6 linked regions of the Homo sapiens genome follow. The protein of the gene in region 5 interacts with the protein of the main gene of each other region in a pairwise test. Each region holds a gene or a part of one and is shown on either strand. Other genes may lie near its edges.

Region 1 (3,370 bases), on a different chromosome or scaffold from region 5:
TTCCAAAGATAGAGATCAAAAGCAAAACACTGAGTTAGAGTTACAAATCTCCACTCATAGATATGGGAATAATATATTTTGTTCCATCAACATGTCTACTTTGCATTATTCAGCACAAAGCTTTGTGAAATAAGAATCATGGGAATATAAGAATATAAAGAAAAAAGGTACAAATAACAGCTTCATAAACTGAGAAATGTACATAAATAAATCATGTATATGTGGGCAGTTTGCTTAGCTGGCAAGAAACAAAATATGGAAAATCTGCTTGTTAAACAATAACTACAGAGTGTGCTTTTATGATGTTTTTCACCACAGTAATTCATATTAGAGATAGAAGCAGTTGCATGTTAAATAAAATCATTGAGCATTGTTCCCCTTGCATTGCAAAGAGCTGACTTGTGTTGTTTTTAGATGCCTCCCATTAGAAAGTAAATATTCCTTCAATGCTATGCATTTCACAAAATTTAATAAAGATGAACTGTAAATAAAGTCACAGGGAGATTTCAGACAGTTTTATTAGGAGATTGTTGAAAAGGAAAAGAAAATTAAATACAATAACAGTAAACGTGGTTCTCACATTGAAACCAGGCTCAAATAACTAGGCTACCATAGAAAAATTTCCAATTCTTGCATTATGATGTAAAAACAGATTTTTGTACAGATTTTGTACAACAAAATTCGTAATAACCTTTTATCATTTTTAGAAAACTTTAAATATATAGATAAAAATAGACAATTTTCATAGGTCCTACATGAAGATGAGTATGTTCTGTTCCAAGGGCTTGCATAGAGCGCAAATGTGGTTATAATATAGAACAACTAGACATTAATATTTTTAGGATTACAAAAGCATGGAAACCATAAAATGGGCACATTTTACTTGTTTATGCCAAAACACAAATTTCCAAACCAACCTGTATAACTAAAACAGGGAAAAAATTAAGTTACAGACTTACAATAACATTTCATGAATTGTAATATTTACAACATGTTAGTAAGAGTCTCTCTTAACATACAGCTGATAGCTTTTTTCTTTAATCCTTGCTAAAATTTCCTTTTATTTCAAATCAAACACTAAAGCATTCTCAAAGGTCTTCAAATATGTATTTTAAAACTATTTAATCCACATAACAAACAGGTGACTCTATGCCAGGAGCAGAGCAATGGCTGATTCTACTACATATGTAAGTTGTAGGCTTTTTTAAAAATCTTTCAAAAAATGTATGATGCAAAAAGCTTGACACAAGTCCATTCAATTTTAAGTGTTGTAATCCTTTAAAGACTGCATATAGGGAAACAAACACATAGAACTAGGAAAAGAATCCCTTGTGCTCAAACAACAAAAGGTGGTTATGGAAGAACTATGCTTAGAAAACCAAGTTTCTACAAATCATTTACTAGCAATACTTTAAATAAAAATAATGCTCCCTTTGTAAGCAAGCTAAAATAGGAACTGTACATATAACCTTTTTATGGTATTAAAAAGATGAACTTAGCTGGCTAATAGTGAGCTACACAAAAGAATTATGTTCCAGTATTGCAAGGAAGACCTAAAAGGTATAGAAGCGTAATGCCAGAGTATCTATAATGTTAATTTTTTCTTAATCAAGTAATTAATACCCAATCAGAACTATATTTAAACATTTTAAGCTAGTTTTCTTAGACATTGAAGATTTTGCTGTTTTGTGGTAATAAATAATGTTACGATCATACAATTTTAAGATGACAGAAAAATCATAAAATGTATAGTGACCGTACTGATTCATATCAGTCTTTAAAGGTGTAATTCCAGATATGCAAAAAACAAAGAGAAGGTAACTTTAGCATGTAATAAGCACTGTTTGCCGCTTTACTTCCAGTTATCTGCACGAAAGTGAAAACACATACTGTAACTTTCAAAAAGACAGTGAAAATAACACATAGCCACCCTTCCCTCTGACAAGGGTGGGAAGCACAGCACATTTTAACTTTATCACTCAGCGCTACATGGTATTGGACTGGTACATCAAGGTTTGTTAGGTTTTGTTTTCAGCAACATTAACATAATATGACGTTAACATATAAAAATATTTCTGGTGTTTTGATTTGCTGTTCAGCCACAATCCATTCCCAATAGTGCAGCTTGGGGCACTAGCTAGGGTTCAATATACAAATAAAAGTGGCTGACACAGAGTTCTGATGTCACCAGATGCTTAAGATCTCATTCATTAATACTGTGACTCCAGACAAATATTTACATGCCTGCATGCGTTAAAACCAGAAAGACATCTTTCTGACCAACAGGGTGACAAAACATATTTTCTAAAATTTTCATTTTCCTAAACTCTAGTATACTACTGCATACATAATACCTTCCTTGTGTGTTTTATGTTTATATACTGTACATATGACCAACAGTTTGAATAAGAAGCAACATTATTATCTTTAATTCTACATACCACTACCAGTTTGGAATGAAAACATGTTACACTTATATATTTTTTTTTATTTTTAAGAAAAAAAAACCTTCAGTGAAAGCTTTTGGCTTATATTCAATGCTTCTTTTCAGATATGCAAAATGTTATTTCATTGGGTTGTTGTCAACATCCATTTGTTGGTCTTTTGGAAAGTATGTGAAAAAAAATTCTTCAGGAGAAAACCCACAATTAGAGAGTTTGAAATTGAATGTAACAGAAAATCACTCTTGCATTTTTTTTTTTCAAGAATCCTCTATGCCCCCTACAAGTTCATTCGTTCATTCCAAGTGTTCTTGCTGGTTTCTGGAGGACATAATTCTGTAAGTCTGGGTAACCACTGCTACAAGAGTCTCTTGATGTGCTCAGATACAGAATTTTCAGAAGAGGAAAATGGTTCATTCCATTAGAAAAAAACAAAGCTAGGTCTTATTCAGACCTGCCTTTAACTCTGTATACAATTGTCCAGCAGCAAGTTGCAGTAATTAACTGTAAGAACTTTGATACTTGTACATTTACAAACATTCTCAGGTCTCTGGTATGAACCACAGGTGAAAATCAATGGAGAAAACTTTTTTTTTTTTTGTAGAATACTTAAACTTTTAAAGAACATTAATACACAAAATTCAGGAAGTTCCCTTAAAAGGACTTTATTTTTTTCTGAACTTTCCCATGACGAATGTCTGACTGCAAAGTTCTTTTCTATAACATGGATTTCTTCAACAGGAAAGATTCAGTACATGACAGTAGTTTTCAAATACAGTCTTCCATCTAGAAATGAACAGTGAAAAATTAATTAATGGCATGGTATTTGGGGTACAAATGTGCATGTAAAAATGATGTAACTTGATATAAAATTTGTAGTTTTTATTAGATCTTTACTTGGTTAAGAAGTAACATTTTTCATATCTTCT
Region 2 (3,500 bases), on a different chromosome or scaffold from region 5:
TCCTGCTCTGCTCCCCTGCAGGGCTGGTGGGCCTCCTTCCCCCTTTGAAGGCCTAACGGCCTGGCTTGGAGAGAGGGGGCTCCCGGCATGGGTGATGGCAGAGGCTGGCACCCTTGTGGGCCAGGGCCTGATGGCTCATGGGAGTGCAGGGGACATTGATGTCAAGGGATAGGCCAGACGCCTCACCTTCTCTCCATTCTAGGAAAATCCAAGAGGAAGAAGGATCTACGGATATCCTGCATGTCCAAGCCACCCGCACCCAACCCCACGTGAGTCTGCCTCAGTTTCTCCCTGGCTCACCCTGGAGAGGCTTCCCGAACAGGGCTCAATGGAAGGAGTGAGAGGCAGGTGGGGCCAGCCCTGCTTTACCTCGTCCTGTCCTGGGCAGCCCCTGCTGTGCATACAGCCAGGTGACGGCTGCTGGGGGTTCATGCAGCACCATTTGCTCTGCTCTGCTCACTTCTCACCCTGTCTTGGAGGCTCGATGAGGCCGTGCCCAGCTCAGTGTAGATGCTCAGCAGCCAGTGAGAGGAGGTGGCCGGAGAAGGCGCCTCCGGGGCAGGAGGCACCTCGTCCCCACGCCAGGCCCCACACTGGCCCATCTACTGCTGCACTTGGGGAAGGGTGTGGTTCTCTCTGAAGCTCACGGAGTCTTCTTTCTCCACAGACCCCCCCGGAACCTGGACTCCCGGACCTTCATCACCATTGGAGACAGAGTAGGTGCCAGCCGCCACCCCTGCAGGGCCTCTCACTTCACCTGACGAGCGGGTAGAGCTGACCCTGCAGGGCCACTTTGGGGGGAGGTGACTGAGGGGTCAGAGAGGGTCAGGCTCTGGAGAAGAGCCTCGTCCTGCGCTGCTGGCTGTGTGGCCCTGGGCCACCCACTCTTTGACCCTCCTGGTGGGAATGAGGACCATCGGCTGCCTGACTGGAGCTTGGCGAGCCCAGAGCTGGTAGGAAGGTTTCTGAGCTGAGAGCAAGGCCCTGCACCTCATCCTAGCCCTAGGGGAGAGTATTGAACATGCAGGCTCCTAGGCCGCCCTGGACCCGCTGGATCACTCCCTCAGGCCAGCACCTGGGCAACCTGCATTTTATGCTTCCAGAAGCCTCGGAAGGGCACTAGCCATTCAGAATCCTGGCTCAGGGACCGTGCTATGCCCCGTTCCTCCCAACAGAAACCCTACTCCCAGGCCAGGTGCAGTGGCTCACACCTGTAATCCCCACACTTTGGGAGGCCGTGGCAGGAGGATCACTTGAGCCTCGGAGCTCGGGACCAGGCCTGGGCAACATGGCGAAACCCTGTCTGTACAAAAATACAGAAAATTAGTCAGCGTGGTGGTGCGTGCCTGTGGCCCCAGCTACTTGAGAGTATGAGGTAGGAGGATTGCTTGAACCCAGGAGGTGGATGTTGCAGTGAGCCATGATCGTACCACTGCCCTCCAGCTTGGGTGACGGAGTGAGACCCCGTTTCAAAAAAAAAAAAAAAAAAGAGCTGGGCACGGTGGCTCACGCCTGTAAGCCCAGCACTTTGGGAGGCTGAGGCGGGTAGATCACCTGAGGTCAGGAGTTCAAGACCAGCCTAGCTAACGTGGTGAAACCCTGTCTCTACTAAAATACAAAAATTAGCCCGGTGTGGTGGCAGGCGCCTATAATCCCAGCTATTCAGGAGGCTGAGACAGGAGAATCGCTTGAACCCAGGAGGTGGAGGTTGCAGTGAGCCAAGATTACCCCATTGCATTCCAGCCTGGGTGACGAGAGTGACACTCTGTCTAAAAAAAATAAACCCCATTCCCTAGGCCTGTCCTTGACGATACTCCCTCCAGGCTGTCGCACTCCCTGACACTCACCATCTGCTGTCCTGTTCATCTACTTGCTTACTCCTTTTTGTGTCCCTCCCAAGAGAGGGAAACATCTGTGAAGGCAATACTTTTGTTTTGTTGTCACTGTGTCCCCAGTGCCTAAAACACATTGTGGATGCTTGGTAAACAGTTTCTGAATGAGTGACTCATTCTAGCCAGCTGAGTGGGGTCGGGAAAAGAGGGACAGGGCACCTCTTTCTCAGAGCTGTACCTGCTGGCGGGGCATTTTGTCTCAGTCACACTCCATAGCAGCCTTGGGGTGTTGGCACTGTGCCTGTTTTATAGAGGGCATCGTGAGGCTCAGAGAGGTTAAGTGACTTGCTGAGGGTCACACAGCAGGGAGCGGTGGATATGAGGTTTGAGCCCAGATCTAATCAGCTGGTCCTCTTCATGCTGCCCAGGTATCTCCACTGGGCATGGGGTGAGGACTGGCTTCCAGCTTGCTGGCCACTGACTCTCTTTTCCATCCTTCAAGAACTTTGAGGTGGAGGCTGATGACTTGGTGACCATCTCAGAACTGGGCCGTGGAGCCTATGGGGTGGTAGAGAAGGTGCGGCACGCCCAGAGCGGCACCATCATGGCCGTGAAGGTGAGCAGGGCCTGGAGGCAGCTGGGAGGGCTCCCTGGAGGAGGCGGGCTGAGCTCTGCCATGGGGCCCTGCCTATCCCTCTCAGTGATCAGTACCGAGGCTAGGCTTTTTGGGGCACACTGGGCAGTGGCCCCCTGAGCTCCTGGCCCTCCTGTCATGAGTGTGGGTGTTGGCCTCTGCCACGGCAACCTCTGAATGGCAGTCCTTCCCTGCAGCGGATCCGGGCCACCGTGAACTCACAGGAGCAGAAGCGGCTGCTCATGGACCTGGACATCAACATGCGCACGGTCGACTGTTTCTACACTGTCACCTTCTACGGGGCACTATTCAGAGAGGTGCGTCCTTGCATGATGCAGCTGGGGATCTCCACCTCCCACCCATCAGTCGCCTGCAACCCACTGTCACTCAGTCCCTCCAGTACGCCAGGTGCTGGGGACACCTGGCATACTGGCAGGAGGCTCCCCCGTCTCTTGGCTGTTACTGTCCTGCTCAGTGCCTCAGTTTCCTTGTCAGTCAAATGAGGCCGGTGGTTGTGGGTGCCTCCTAAAGTTGACACGGAAGGTAAACGACATGGCCTGGGGCCTGGCATTCAGCTGCACTCAGTTCTGTCTGTGTGACCATTCGCATCCCCATGGCATACAGGGCGTGGGAATGGCATATGGGGCGTGGGGTGCCCAAGCAGGCAACGGCCATGGAGATATGAGATCTGGATTCTGGGTTCTAGGTTTGTGGACAGGATGGGGTGTGTGCTGAGAGAGTGACTGAGGCTGGAAGAGTGGAGCTGCCTTCCGCCAAGCCGGGTGGGTGTGGGTGAGCAGGGAGGCCGGGAGCCTAGGCGATGCTGGGCTCATACTGGTCACTTGCCCCTCAAAGAGCTGTGGCAGGGTCAGGGCATCTGAGTCCAGCCATCGGGCAAGGTCAGGGCTGCTTCACCTGTCCTCACTCGTCACTCATGAAGAGCTCAGCATCCTCTGTGCCAGCCCCTAGCCGATGGGGCCCCTGCAGCCTGCGGGTGCCCCCTGCGCATCTCCCAACCTTCCTGTCAGGAGGGT
Region 3 (3,500 bases), on a different chromosome or scaffold from region 5:
CAAATTTATTTCAGTGGCTAAATTACCTTGATTTAAATGTCAGTGACATATATATTTTTAAAAACATTCTGGAGGATAAATACATTTTTGAGAAGTGGCGGAATCTACTTGAGGTCAAGTCTTATCAATAAAGTTAAAAACAACATATATAGTATACAGATATGAATAATTCAAACTGAAGAGGGAAGTGAAAAATATATAGGTGATAATCCAAATTAAAGGCTATTCTTCAAAAGCAGTTGTCAAATTGGTTTTGGTAATGACAATAATTAGATGATCTGTAAGGTTGGGTCTAGTTAGAAACTTCTGTGTTTCCCGGATGCTTATTGCTTTTTCTTTTTAAAGTATAGTCATTTATTTCTCCTAGTAAATGTTCCCTTGTTATAATGAACAATGGTTTCATTGTTCATGATTTACTAGAAAGGCAACAAATTTGAAACTGGTTATAAACATATAATCTGTTTCTAACCATATCATTTTTAAGCAGTTCTAAAAACTCAGTAAACAGTAAACATTTTCTCTTCTTTTCAGAAATAAAATCTCAGAGCAAGGTGTATAACACTTGCATTTCAATACATATTTATGTTCCATACTTACAGCATGCATTTTCCTACATATCAAAGGACATTTCACTATCATTGAACTCATTTCATCTTTTGCCACACACAGCATTCCACAATCCCACAGCCCTGAAGCTTGGAGAACATGTCTCTCACATTCAAAATCTAACTAAACTAACAGTTTAACAGCTTGTCTATGTAAAATAGGGATAGGAACATTGCCAAGCCGAAATAACAGTTGCCTCACAAATGAAATGTCCAAGCTCGTAAAGTCACAAACTTTGACCTTTAGGCTTTTTAAAATAGAATCTGTTTAAACACATACACAGAGCGAGAGAGCAAAAGAGGGAACAGCTTACCCAAAAAGAGATTTAAAAGTTTAAAGCCAGGCATCTCTGAATGATATAATTAGTGGAGTTCACTTCGAGATAATTTGGGAAGATAAAATAAATTTAGAAAAACATTAGAAAAATGCAAACCATTGATCTAACTGATTTGGATACTTCTCATTTGAATAGCTCTCCCTTGGAGTTCCGGCTCTACACACTTATTATTTTTTGAGTGACAAATGTCATCATAGTTTGCTGCTAATAAAACATTGATTATCTCACTGCTTAGTTGAAAGAAATGCAGAATATTACAGAGTTAATTTTCCCAATTCCTCTTTCCTAGAATAGGTTGGTATACAATATTTTTGATTTGAGAAAAATAAACAGAAAAAAATAAACATGAAACACTAAGCTATGAATCACATACTCCTTATTAAAGAACTTCCTTTTTACCTCACATGGTCCTGATCCAATCTTTTCAGCCCCAGCACATATTTCAGACTCATTCAGAGTCACCTTCCCTCGATGATGCTGGCTGCATTTCTCATTTCCCATTATATAGAGATGTGCCACTCGTAATAGGCCATCATAGTTGATCACTAGATTGATGCAAAAAACATACAATAAGGTGAGAAAAGTAAGAAACAAAGACAAATGTGTTCTTTTTAAAATAAAATAAATATGGCCTCATCTTTTGAAAACTAGCTTACATCCAGTGTAGCCCCAGCCATAAACACTGCAACTGGTCTTTTCAGGAATTGTGCATCCATAATTAGGTAAATCAATCGTACTAACAAAATCATCCAGGACAGCAGGCCTGAAAACACAAAATACAATGGTAAGTACTCTCAACTGGATTCAACACAAAATTAACATATTAAATGTAGTGTTCATGTTTAATATGGCATTTACAGAGAATGAAGTCCTGTTTCTTAAAAAAAAAAAAAAAAAGGTGGGAATGTCCAAATGTAATGATGACATTTGGAATAGGTAGTAAAGAAATGAGTCATGTATTTGCCAATATTTAAGAATAAATGGTCAATGCTATTTTTTAAAATAATTATTTTACATTTGAAAGTTATCAAATAACTGCTGAGTTTCCATTTTAAAACAGACTGATCAGACTGTTGGCCCAATGTTAGTTATTCATTTTTTTACAGTTTTGCAAATACCTTTCTCTCTATACTCACAGAGAGACCCAAACGCACGCATATATACATATATATACAGCATGTAACATATGTTTATAATGCATCTGTATGAGAGAGAACGAACTGCCACACAGCTGAAGAAAATGCTCCAACAATTCTTGTCCAGGTGAAAAATACAAAATCTTCTAAAGTAACTAACCTGGCAAGCTTCATTAAAACCAGATCTGATCCTTCAGGGCCATATACCAGCTGGGAAACATTGAGAACCTGTTTGCATTTCTCATCTCCTCTTCCGTGGACATCATGAATTCCAAGCCAAGCTTCATAATCTTTCAAGTCTCTGTTTTGAAGGAAAAAAATTTAAATGTAAAACATAATAATTCCAAATTCTGTAGTATTATTCCTATCTATTGTTATTTTAGACTATTAAGGCACATAACCTAAATTTAAAATTTGATTCATAGTATAATAAAGAACAACACATTTGTTATGGCAGATTCTGAATACTACAAACATACATAAGCAGAAAGAGGCTTTAAATTGCTGAGATTCTAAATGACTATTTTAGAAACTTGCTTATGCTTGCTAGAAGTCACTTGTGAAAAATGCTCAGGTAAAGCACTTTACATGAATTATAATTTTTTCTGCAAATTTTGCTTTGTTTATGTCAGCTGTGTATATATTTGGTTTGGTAACAGGGGTTGAAGTTTTCTACAAACAAAATCAAAGTGACCTTGCTGAGAAGCAGGAAGGAAGTTTACAAATGCTGCCTCTTTATCTTTTCCTTAGGCTAATTTTCATTGAAAATTATGCCCAGGATGATCCTGAGGCTGACTCTACAGGAGAAAGAAGTAGTGAGGACTGAAAAAAGCCTATTGACAATTTAGAAAAAAAAAAGAATTATATCTAGAAATACAGGGTACAAGTAGAAAGTTGGGATATAAAACATTTACATAATTCTAGCAAAATTTTCCCCAACTGAGGGTAACACTAATTGTGAAAAGAGGTGAACTGAAGTAGTGTCTTGTAAATATCTGTGAAGTCAAAGTAAGTTTTGTAAGCCAAATTCTAAAAATGAAATAATTTGTTCACCCCATTTGTGAATCTCTGTAAAATGAATACATATTATAACCTTAAGAGCAAAGTGGAAGACATACACATTTTAAAGGCTCAAAATAATACTAGTTTTAAAAACACTTTACCGAGAAGGGAAACACTGTCGTGCAGTAAGAACCCAACTCTCCTTTATCAATGATCCTCCGCAGATATGTTTATTTCTGTGAAAAAGAGGAAAGAGAAACAAGTAACATCTGTGCAGAAAGAGTGACTGCCAATTAATGCAAAGCCTGTGGCTCCATTTGTTAAAAATAAATACACTGCAGAGGAAAATATAGAAATTAACCCAACTGGAATAAAATGAGAAGTTCTTTTATCTGAAGGGTGATATTTGGTGATTGTAG
Region 4 (3,500 bases), on a different chromosome or scaffold from region 5:
TCAGGGATGGGAAGTAACACAGAGGTTTTAAGCGAGAAGTTCTACGGACTTGAGGTCTGGGATTTTTGCTCCGCATCCACCCGCGGACCCCTCCTCACCAAGCCGCTCGATCTGTTTGAAATCATCCGTTTGAAGGCCCAAAGAAGAGCCTGCCTCAACGAGAAGCCCTAGCACAGAGATATTCTCACAAAGAGCGCTCCGTAAGTACAAATGACTGTTTGATCAATCATTTGGCCTCAGCGTGGGATTTGGTTAGAATTAAAGCCATCTGGCTGGGGTTGACGGGGGGTACGGAGGGAGGAGACAAGCAGGCGGGAAAAAGACCCACCCCCCTCCCCCAAAAAGCATTGTTAAAACAGGGAAAAATAGTAAAGTTCCTGCTGTTATTTCAGCCTAAGCCACTTAATCCATCAGCACATAAAGCAACTTATTTTATGACCTTTTCCCTTTAAAAAATAAATCAGAAGACGATGCCTTGAATTCACATATCTCTGAAGCACACTACTCATCCCTCCCAGTGAAATATCCTGTTTCATAAACCTTCTTCGAGATACTTGAAACTGCAGATCACTAAATGCTTTGCTTTAGGCATCTGACATTCCAGAGAATTAATATTTAAACTTATTATAGGAAAAAAGAATTGAGTTTGGTTGAAGCATGAAATATTTAATAGTGTCTCCAAATTAGAAACCCTATTTTGTTTCGCGCTGGAAATGCCACGATATTACCTGGGCTTTGCACTCAAATAAGATAAAATGCAAAGGCAGTCTTGAGATTAAACACACAATTACAGCCGTTTTCTCCAGAGAGATGGGGAGTGAGACAGGTTTGGGGAGTGGAAGTGATTGAGTTTCATTTTTACGATATGCTTAAAATTATATTATCATTCTCTGCCTTGAGGGTTGGACTTGAGACTGCTGAAGCTACTTAACCACCGAAAACGGTGTCAAAATCAGTGACTCCGCGGAGGCCTATTCTCAGGCTCTTTAAACCGTCGTCTTGGGATGGGCCCAGTGACAAGCAAAAAACTCCGTAACTTTCTCTGCTTGCTAGGACAAAAGTATTCGGTGGTTTAGGATAAAAATTAAGCTCCAACTGACACAGTGGATCCTGGCAACCTCTGCCGGCACGTGTAATTTATTTACAGGGTTGGAAAGTTGGCAAAATACATCATCAACTCTTACACAAACTTCTACTAGGTATTAAATACCCAACCCTCTGAGAAGTAATTCATATAGTCCAGCAGCGTTCCAAAATAAACCCAATCTCCAGTCCTCCGGAGAGCTTAAAACAGCAAATGGGATCTGTATTTTTCAAGTCAGGTTTATAGTACTCCCTGGTTTCTTGCTAAAGCCTGATTTCTAGCAAACCTGTTATTTAAAAACAAAGGTAACATCTAAAAGAGTAATCTGGTTGCTAAAAAGACACAAATAGGAACAGGCTGGGCTGTACGGCAGGCAGGGCCATCCCTTGTACTTCATTCACTCCCCTTCAGACACAGCGGCACGTAGGAAGGCAAAAACACCTCGGACCAGAACGGCTCCTGCAAGTCCATCTTCAGAATCAGTATGACTCCCTGAGAATGTACACATTCTCATGAATGCACGTGCAAGGCCACAGATGCAACCAGCCGTGGGACCTTTACCTTCCATAGGGGGGGTCATCTAGCTCATTCATCATTTGACACAAAAGACCCATTTCTCACAAGCAAACTCTCAAGTTCACTCTGATCCCCAGCCTGTTCTCCCTCCCAAGCCCTACTTCATCCCACCAAGTGTTTAACAAGAAATAATTGTTTAATAGATCCCTGAGCCAACATGCTTGGGGAAGCACGTATTCTATAACCAGGCATGGTGGGGATCTTGAGGAATTCTCGTCCAACAGATGTCTTTGAAAGCCATAGAGGGGAGACTACGACCGGGGCCTTGGCAAGGAATCTCCCCATATGGCAAGAAAGACTCAGACAGGGACTACTACCTGCAATAACCAGTCAGGACGGGAGTTGCCACTGCTTCTGAGAAGCGGTCCCTCCTAGGGGCCCCCTCCATGGCCTCAGAGAGTCTTTTTCCAGACCCCAGATTCCTGAGGATCCTGAGTCACTGGGAACATTCTCCTTTCCCTAGTTCTGCAGGGGGAGAGGAGCAGTGCCCTACGGAGGCAGAGTATCCCCTGTAAGTCGCACCTCAGCCTGTTGGCTGAGACTGAGAAAGGGGTGCTCTGGGATGTGGCTGTCTGGGCCCCCTGCAGCCTCCTGCTGCCTTCCTTTGGGCTTCCTTGGGGGCGCGCAGCTCTCTAGAGCCGCATCCTCTCCTTCCCAGCCGCCTGGGTTTAAGAAGCTGGTCCTGGAGAGTGGTGTATTTTCAGAGGAAAGTACTGGCTCTGCTGTCAGACAGACCTGGGTTCAAATTCCAGGCTCTGTTGCTTACTACATGCACAACCTTGGACAAATCACTTTGCCTTTCCAAGCCTCAGTCCCCCCATCTTTAAAATTAGAACAGTGCCTCCTTTCTTCCTAGGGCTGCTGGGCATAATTAAATGTGATCACGTCTCTAAAGCATCTCACCTGGCACAGAACAGCCGCTCACTAAAGGTTAGTTGACCTCCCTCTTCCCCATTCTTTCTGTGTTCATCTTTAGCAGTCAAGAGTTCCAGTGTATAACCTGGTCTGAGACAAAAGTGGCCTCTTCCTACACCCCAGATCCTTCCAAACCTTCCCAGCCCAGTCAGTGTGGAATCCTGGAGTATCAGCAGGCAGGGACTATGGATCATCCAACTGAACTGCTCTCCATTTTACAGATGGGAAAACCAAGGCTCAAAGCACAGGGCACGGCCCACTTGCAAAGATGCTACACAATGGCTCATGTGTTAGCTCCAGGCAGGCCCAACCATAACCACCAAATAAATTCAGGCCATCCAGGAAATGCGTTATTCAGTTAACAGACTAAAGGTCTCTTCTCAGCGCATCTGACTCAAATGCTAACTTTAAAAACACAGCTCGTAATGCTAACACGATCCGCCTCGATCCACCGGAAACCTACTGAAGGAATAATCCTTTGGAGTTTAAGGGGGAAAAAGGGCAAAAGAAGAAAACATGCTTTAAGTGACTTTCAACTCTGAGACCACTGGGTTAGGGTTGTATTCTCTCCACCCCTACCCAGCCCAGCCTTCGGCTTTCTTTCAGTTTCTTATAAATATGGCTTTGGGAGACCAAAGTAGCCACAAAACTACTTTTCCCCCTCTTTTCTGCTTTCCTTACTCAGTAACTCAGCTGTCAGTCCCTGGACTTTGCTTCCAATGCTGAAAGCTTTTTTTTTTTTTTCATTGTAAACTATTAATTTGGGCAGTGGCTGCTGATAAACAAGAAGTCCGTTTTTAAACTGCTAGAATCATTAGCACAGTGAAGGCGAGCAGCACAAATATTTCAGGAGTTTGGTCTTTTTTCCTGGCCCTGGTATTACAGCTGTGCTTTTTGCATAATGCAGTCCAAGTTTTCAAAGCCC
Region 5 (3,500 bases):
GCCTGCCTCCACTTAGAAGCTGAAAAAGCTAAATACTCACTTTCCCAGCCTCCCTTGCAGTTAGAAGTGGCCATGTGACACAGTCCTAGCCAATGAGACGTTAGGGGAAATCTGCTGGGGGGCTTCTGGGAAGGAGTTTCTTCCTGAATGAAAAAGACAGAACTTTGGGAGGAGAAAGCTTTTGGCCCTGGCCAAGTCCTGCTTGGGAGATTGATATGGTTTGGATATTTGTCCCCTCCAAATCTCATGTTGAAATGTGATCCCCAGCTGGGCACGGTGGCTCACACCTGTAATCCCAGCACTTTGGGAGGCCAACGCAGGTGGATCACAAGGTCAGGAGATTGAGACCGTCCTGGCTAACATGGTGAAACCCTGTCTCTACTAAAAATACAAAATATTAGCTGGGCATGGTGGCACGTGCCTGTAATCCCAGCTACTTAGGAGGCTGAGGCAGGAGAATGGCTTGAACCCAGGAGGCGGGGGTTGCAGTGAGCCGAGATTGCGCCACTGCACTCCAGACTGGGGGACAGAGCGAGACTCTGTCTCAAAAAAAAAAAAAAAAGTGTGATCCCCAAGGTTGGAGGTGGGGCCTGATGGGAAGTGCTTGGGTCATGGGGGTGGATCCCTCATGAATGTCTTGGTGCCTTCCCCATAGTAACAAGTGAATTCTCACTCTTTGAGTTGATGTGAGCTGGCTGTTTAAAGGAGCCTGGCTTCGCTCTCTTGCTCCCTCTCACCATGTGACATAGTGGCTCCCCTTCCCCTTCCACCATGGTCCTAAGCTTCCTGAGGCCCTCACCAGAAGCATAGGCTGGCAACATGCTTCCTGTACAGCCTGCAGAACTGTGAACCAAATAAACCTCTTTTCTTTATAAATCACCCAGTTTCAGGCATTCCTTTACAGCAATGCAAATGGACCAACACAGACATGATCCCTGGAGTTGCAACAGCCATCTTGGGACAATAAGACAGACATGAGAGGAACTACAGAGATTCCAGTCCTGATATTGCTAAGCCCACACGGGAACAGCCCACCTCCAGGCTTTTTGTTGCATGGATTCATAACATGAATGCTTTTACTATTTAAGGCACTTTTAATGTGGGTCTTCTGTTACTTGCAGCCAAAAGTATTCCTAATTGATAAATCTATGGAAACTAAGGGACTCCCTCTTTCACTGATGTGAGTTCTCAGGGCCATATCAGCATGGACTTCCAGAAGCCATCTTTGCTGCCAAGTAGCTGAGTCTGCCTGGGAATGAAGCCACCACAGTGGAAAGCAGATCAAAGTAATGACTGATGCCATCACTTGAGCCGCTGGATCCAGCCACGCCTGAGGCCATAATTCTGAACTGTCAGTTACTGGAACCAATAAATCAATACATTTTTCTTATTATTTTTTATTTTATTTATTTATTTATTTTGAGACAGAGTCTTGCTCTGTCGCCCAGTCTGGAGTGCAACGGTGCCACCTCGGCTCACTGCAACCTCTGCCTCCCAGGTTCAAGTGATTCTCCTGCCTCAGCCTCCCGAGTAGCTGGGATTACAGGCAAGTGCTACTGCTACCACGCCTGGCTAATTTTTGTATTTTTTAGTAGAGGTTGGGGGGGGTGGTTTCGCCATGTTGGCCAGGTTGGTCTCGAACTCCTGACCTCAGGTGATCCACCCGCCTAGGCCTCCCAAAGTGCTGGGATTACAGCTGTGAGCCACCGCACCTGCCTCTTCTTTTTTAAAATGTTGCTTCAGCTGGCTTGATTTGGATTTCTATCACTTGCAGCTGAAAGAATCTTGACTAACATACCTCCCCCATGTCTCATAAGCTAGCAAGTGGCAGAACACAAACCCAGTGTGTGGCTGCAAAGACCAAAATCTCCTAACCATCACCAGTTCCACCACTCAGCTCTCCAGCCCCTCCCGGCTCCCCCGCCCCCAACACACACACCCTGCCTCAAAGCTGGGCTTCAGTAAGAATGTATCCCCTAATTGGCCGGGTGCGGTGGCTCACACCTGTAATCCCAGCACTTTGGAAAGCCGAGGCAGGCGGATCACAATATCAAAAGATCGAGACCATCCTGGTCAACATGGTGAAACCCGATCTCTACTAAAAATACAAAAATTAGCCCGGCATGGTGGCGGGCACCTGTAATCCCAGCCACTCGGGAGGCTGAGGCAGGAGAATCACTTGAACCCAGGAGGCGGAGGTTGCAGTGAGCCGAGATCACGCCACTGCACTCCAGCCTGGCGACAGAGGGAGACTCCATCTCAAAACAAAACAAAATAAAACAAAAAAAACAATGTATCCCTCAATTGATGGAAGGTTGAAGGAAAGGCAGTAGGGGTCGAAGAGAGAGAGGGGAGACAAGGGAGGGTGGAGCGCAGGCTCTTACCTGGGAGGTCAGTAGATGGGGGAGTCAGTGACAAGGTGAACGGTGTCTGTGAGAATGGCTTCACACTGAGGGAAAAAGGAAGCCAGGGGTTAGCCAGGTAGAAAGATGCTAATGTCACCAGCAAATGTTTACTGAGAGGCCACAACAAGCAAGACCCTGTGCATTTTGTGCACAATCTCACTGAAGCCTCACAGTGCGTGAGGTAGGTAGAATGACTGCTCTTTTCATTGCACAAATGAGGACAACTGAGGTATAGAGGGGTCAACTGACCTGCCCAAAGTCACACAGTTGAGATGCAGCAGAGCTGGGACTTGAACCCAGGTCAGTCTCAGCCCGGTATCTCAGGCTCTTGATGATGACATTTTGGTATCTCTCACAAAATGTCAGAAAGAGAAGAGAAACCAGCCTGGCGTGGTGGCTCACACCTGTAATCCCAGCACTTCAGGAGGTTGAGGCGGGCAGATCACTTGAGGTCAGGAGTTCGAGACCAGCCTGGCCAACATGGTGAAATCCCATCTCTACTAAAAATACAAAAATTAGCAGAGTGTGGTGGTGCGCGCCTGTAATCCGAGCTATTCAGGGGGCTGGGCCAGGAGAACTGCTTGAACCCGGGAGGCAGATGTTGCAGTGAGCCGAGATTACGCCATTATACTCCTGGGTGACAGAGCAAGACTCCATTTCAAAAAAAAAATAAAAAGAAAGAGGAGAGAAGAGAAACCAAGTCTTGGAAGGCAGGGAGAAGACGCAGAAGACAAGGAATTTGGAGGAAGAAGAGGCTGAGGGGTTGGGAGGGTGGGAAGAAAATGACCAACACTCAGGAGATGGGACAGGAGGCCAAAGTCGGGGTGGGGAGGCAGCACTGGCCAATAGAACTTTCCAGGGATGGAAATGTTCTATTGGATGGAAATCTGTGCCATCCAATACGGTACCCAGTGCCCACATGTGGCTACTGACCACAGACCACGTGGCCACTGAGCACAAGTGTGGCTCATGGACCTGAGAAACAGAATCTTTAATTTTATTTAATTTTAATTTAAATAGCTGCATGAGGCTAGTGGCTACAGTATCAGTCACAGCCCTAGTAGCCCAAGAGATAGTGGTGAAGAGACTTAGATG
Region 6 (4,259 bases), on a different chromosome or scaffold from region 5:
CTCTGCTCACCCAGCCCTAACGTCCCAGGAGCTCCAGTTACCTGATCACTTCTGCAGCCCAGGCACCCCCAGGTCCCCTTTTGGCAGCATCATAGTTCCCCCGAGCATGGAAGTATTTGTCTGAGCCGATGTAATTGGCTTCTCTCATGTCAGAGTAGGCTCTCCACATGTCCCGAGCCCCTGGAAAGGAAAGGAAAGGCAGAAGGGACATCAGGAGAACATAAAGACTCCAACAACACCTTAGAGGGGAATGAAAGAAGGACAAATCTTCCACTGACTTCAAGCTTTCAGCCTGTGATCATAGCAGCCTTGGATACCATGGGTTGAGAAGCACATTCCTTTATCCTAGTTGGCTTCTTCAAGTGCCCTGGTGAAGAGCCACTGCTATAGAATGAAGCTGCCTATGATAAGATCCAGGAGTGTATATGAATGAGGTGGTGACATGGAATACTGATGCTGAGAAAGGTGGCAGACACAGAGTACTTCTGCCCTGACTACTAAAGTATATATTCTTGCAAATGGAATACATGTCATTGTGACCTGAGTTCCAGTGACTGTTAGGAGCATAAAAGTCCCTAAACACTTTCTCAGTAGGCTGTACTGATACTGTGGGTTGCTTGAGGAAGCAATAGAGCAGCGGTTCTCCGCCGTGGTTGCACTTTCTTTTTCTTTTTTATTTTTTTAGACGGAGTCTCACTCTGTCACCCAGGCTGGAGCACACTGGAGCAATGTAACTCACTACAACTTCCGCTTCCCGGGTTCAAGTGATTTTCCTGCTTCAGCCTCCTGAGTAGCTGGGATTACAGGTGCCTGCCACCACGCCTGGCTACATTTTCATATTTTTAGTAGACACAGGGTTTCACCATGTTGGCCAGGCTGCTCCGGAACTCATGACCTCAAGTGATTCATCCACCTTGGCCTCCCAAAGTGCTGGAATTACAGGCGTGAGCCTTGGCTGCACTTTCTAATCACCCAGAGAGAAACTGAAAGTCCCAGTGCCCAGGCCACACCCCAGGCCAGTTTCTGCAGACTCTGCTGGGGAGTTGAAGGCATGGGTAGTTCAGGTGATGCCAAGGTGTGTCTGAGATTCATAACCATCAACCTCTGGGAGGTGGTCAGTGATGCGTCTACCTGGCAAGAGCCCTGACCTCAAGCACAGCCGGGCTCAAACCTCTGCCCTGCCACCTGCTGACTGGCAGTAAGTCCCTGGGCATTGGCCTCAGCTGCTCTAAGTCTCAGCTTTCTCACCTTCACAGAAGGGATGCCTGCCTCACAGAGTCATTCTGAAACTAGATGAGAAAATGCTGTGGTCCTTGTGGGGGCTTGAGGCACGTTAGTTCCCAGCTCTTGTCAAGAAGGCTGGAGAAGGAAGAATGGAAACAGAACAAACCAGGAAGGGAGCCCCTGACAGAGCGAGGCTAAAGAGCCCTGTACATTATCCAACTAGGAAATCGAAGGAGGAAGGAGAAAGAAGACAGAAGAGTCAACAGCCTTAGTCATACTCCTATGCGATTTATGCTGAGGGACATTTTATACCAATTGCAGGCCTTATTTTGCATCTTCTACTCAAAACAAACAGCTCAGGTGCTCCTGGAAAGGATGATTGTTCTTTCTCTGAGTAACTGACAACAATCCTCGACTCTCTAATCTGTTTAGCAGCTCCCCAGGCACATTGGGCAGCACAACCTAAGGCAGCGGCTCAAATCTTAAGGAAGCCCAAAAATACCCCGTGTGCGTTGTTACTGGATGCCCCGTCCCTTACGGCTCAGGAGATGTGTTTTTGATACACCTTGCAGCGGCTTCTGAAATGTGATCCATCCACTTAACACATCCTGAGAAGCTGCACTACGGGGAAAGGGGATATTCCCAGCAGCTCTGAAAGACTCGAGACAGGCAACCCAGCAAACCCTAGTTCCTGGCAGGCCTCAGCAACGCAGACACTAGCAACTCTGTGGTTCAAAAGCAGCCTTCCGAAAGCATCATTTTCCCCAGTTTATCAGGTCCAGGGCGATGTTTCTCTTCAGAAATCCTGCAAACCTTCTGAAGCCTTACCATCAAAAGCCTCGCCAAGGAACGAAAAGAAGCTTCGGCTGCTGACACTCAGGACCAAGGAGCAGAAAACCAGGCCCGTGAGAAGCTTCATGGTGCTGAAATGAAAGGAGAAGTCAGGCAGTCGCCCACAAGACTGGCACAGCTTCCCTTGGGACTTATATTCCGACGAGAGCCTGGTTATTTCCACTGGATCTTATTAGAGTCTCAGTGGCTCATCTAGGAAACCTTGCAGCAGGACCTCACTCAGAGCCAGAAGCCCTCGGTTCTGAACCCATCAGCCCTGAAGCCTGACTGCATAAGAGGATGCCAATGTGGCACTGATGGAGGAAGGCAGGAGTTACCACCAGACTGTCACTCCCTCAAGTAGCCTATAATTCCCCATAACGCATTTACCGTGTGTTCCCTCTGCCCCGCACAGAACTCAACATGGGATAAACACAAAGCAGGATCATTATTTTTTATTCTTAAAGCCTTTAGCACCTGGTATTCCCAGGTGTTCTCCCATCCAAGTACTACCAGGCCCGACCCTGCTTACCTCTCTAGATCAGAGGAGATAAGACACCTTCAGAATGGTATGGCTGTATGCCCCAGGATAACTATTTTTTTTAAAGGAAATGATAATCTTGTTGGGAAAGAGAAAACAGAGTAAGTTTTAAAAATCACTCCTTGGTGTGCTCCTCACCTGATCTGTGCTGTAGCTGAGCTGCGGGTCCCTGTCTGCCAGGGAGAGGTGGCTGCTATTTATAGTGAGCCTTGCTGGTCTCTTGGGAGGGAAGAAAAGCTGGATGTGGTCCCTGGGGAAAGTCCCTGCAGGTCATTTCCCCTACAAACTGGTCTAAGACAAGTTCCTGGATGCCGGTGGTTTCTTCATCCCGGGTCATTTATCCCAGTTGTGTAACCTATGGGAACAAGAGAGGTTTGCTGTGCCTTGGCAATGGACAGGGTGCTAGATCAGCTCTGCTCCTCAGCATTGGGGGAAGTGCAGCTGCAGAGATGCCAGTGGGAGCCCCGTGATGGCGGCACCTGGGCTGCTGGAAGGTGTGGAGTGAGGGCAGCTCTTCAGCCAGCTCCTGACTATACCGGTCATTTCCTCAGGATGGGCCCTGCTGGGCCACATGGCAGATGACCCTGACTGAAATCCCTGTGAGTTCATGTCTAAAGCTTTAAGCTTTAAAACGGACAGCCTACCCCTGCCACATCTCATGTGTGCCCTGGAAGCCTCCTTCCACCCCTCTGGATGTCCTGATATTTCTCAGCACAGAAAATCTCTGCTCCGCTGGCTTAGCCAATTTGGAAATGCTTTTTCTAAGTTGGCTCCTGAGCCAAGGACAATGTAGAGAGGGGGACTTTCTGCTGCCCCAGCCTAGTCCTGGAGCCCCACCTTGGGAGAATGAGAGTGTGGTGCGTTAAATAGGCAGCCCAGCTGGGGACGTGCCCAGCATCCAGGCAGGGAAGGGTGGGAGAGCTCTTGGTCTGCTGTATTATCACGGAGGGGTGCAGGGGGCATGCAGATCACTCTCTCATGAGAACATCAACAGGGTCAGATTAGCTCTGCAGAGGCTTATGGAGGAGCATGGTGGCCAGAGATGGGTCAGTACCAGAGCCCAGGGGGGCTGAGGCCAGGACATGCAGAGAGGCTGGTGGACATAGCAGCAACTCTGGTTTCTTCTTCTCCAGTCCATGTTCATACCCTGAGGGCTAGGCATTTGTAATAACAAACAAACAAGCAATTTAGAAATGGGCCAGGCATGGTGGCATGTGCCTATAGTCCCAGCTACTTGGGAGGCCAAGGCAGGAGGCCTGCTTGAACCCAGAAATTTGAGGCCAGCCTGGGCAACACAGCAAGATTATCTTAAAAAATTTTTTTTAATCTCTGAGAAATGGGTAGGGCCAGGAAGTAAAGGATGGCCAAATACTCCATAAGCAGCAAATGCGTGGCTCCAATGTGAACAATGATATTATAGACTCTGTTCTGAGACCTATGCATTGACACCTCCACCTCCCCCACTACATCTTGCCACCTTAAAACCACTGAGAGTGGTACCTGCTGGAATGGGTCCACACACACAGTCACACATATTTTAGGCAGGGTAGTTGACATCCCCAGGGAAAAAGAGCTCACAGAGAGAGGCTGAATGTTTCCAACTGGGTAGCAGTAATAGTACATCATGCTGTACATGGTACAGCACAGATCAGGTGAAAATAAT

The links.
Region 1: the proteins of TEAD2 (region 5) and DACH1 come close enough for resonance energy transfer, tested with the Homo sapiens proteins (one large-scale study listed by BioGRID).
Region 2: the proteins of TEAD2 (region 5) and MAP2K3 come close enough for resonance energy transfer, tested with the Homo sapiens proteins (one large-scale study listed by BioGRID).
Region 3: the proteins of TEAD2 (region 5) and HGF come close enough for resonance energy transfer, tested with the Homo sapiens proteins (one large-scale study listed by BioGRID).
Region 4: the proteins of TEAD2 (region 5) and GLIS1 come close enough for resonance energy transfer, tested with the Homo sapiens proteins (one large-scale study listed by BioGRID).
Region 6: the proteins of TEAD2 (region 5) and SAA2 interact in a two-hybrid assay, tested with the Homo sapiens proteins (one large-scale study listed by BioGRID and IntAct).

Annotation. Positions count from the first base shown.
Region 1 is NC_000013.11:71,437,466-71,440,835, forward strand, and holds the end of DACH1 (dachshund homolog 1), read right to left. Parts: intron 3,228-3,370; coding exon 3,190-3,227; 3' UTR 501-3,189; downstream 1-500. UniProt on the Homo sapiens protein: Transcription factor that is involved in regulation of organogenesis. Seems to be a regulator of SIX1, SIX6 and probably SIX5.
Region 2 is NC_000017.11:21,298,211-21,301,710, forward strand, and holds part of MAP2K3 (dual specificity mitogen-activated protein kinase kinase 3), read left to right. Parts: intron 1-202; coding exon 203-269; intron 270-667; coding exon 668-716; intron 717-2,334; coding exon 2,335-2,448; intron 2,449-2,663; coding exon 2,664-2,783; intron 2,784-3,500. UniProt on the Homo sapiens protein: Dual specificity kinase. Is activated by cytokines and environmental stress in vivo. Catalyzes the concomitant phosphorylation of a threonine and a tyrosine residue in the MAP kinase p38.
Region 3 is NC_000007.14:81,704,048-81,707,547, forward strand, and holds part of HGF (hepatocyte growth factor isoform 1 preproprotein), read right to left. Parts: intron 3,318-3,500; coding exon 3,243-3,317; intron 2,381-3,242; coding exon 2,240-2,380; intron 1,707-2,239; coding exon 1,600-1,706; intron 1,489-1,599; coding exon 1,343-1,488; intron 1-1,342. UniProt on the Homo sapiens protein: Potent mitogen for mature parenchymal hepatocyte cells, seems to be a hepatotrophic factor, and acts as a growth factor for a broad spectrum of tissues and cell types.
Region 4 is NC_000001.11:53,729,165-53,732,664, forward strand, and holds part of GLIS1 (zinc finger protein GLIS1), read right to left. Parts: intron 1-3,500. UniProt on the Homo sapiens protein: Acts both as a repressor and an activator of transcription. Binds to the consensus sequence 5'-GACCACCCAC-3'. By controlling the expression of genes involved in cell differentiation inhibits the lineage commitment of multipotent cells.
Region 5 is NC_000019.10:49,348,917-49,352,416, forward strand, and holds part of TEAD2 (transcriptional enhancer factor TEF-4), read right to left. Parts: intron 2,450-3,500; coding exon 2,385-2,449; intron 144-2,384; coding exon of another isoform or gene 41-143; intron 1-40. UniProt on the Homo sapiens protein: Transcription factor which plays a key role in the Hippo signaling pathway, a pathway involved in organ size control and tumor suppression by restricting proliferation and promoting apoptosis.
Region 6 is NC_000011.10:18,245,869-18,250,127, forward strand, and holds the start of SAA2 (serum amyloid A-2 protein isoform a preproprotein), read right to left. Parts: upstream 2,801-4,259; 5' UTR 2,735-2,800; intron 2,649-2,734; exon of another isoform or gene 2,588-2,648; intron 2,148-2,587; 5' UTR 2,144-2,147; coding exon 2,053-2,143; intron 181-2,052; coding exon 42-180; intron 1-41. Other genes in the region: SAA2-SAA4 protein precursor, read right to left, coding at 42-180, 2,053-2,143.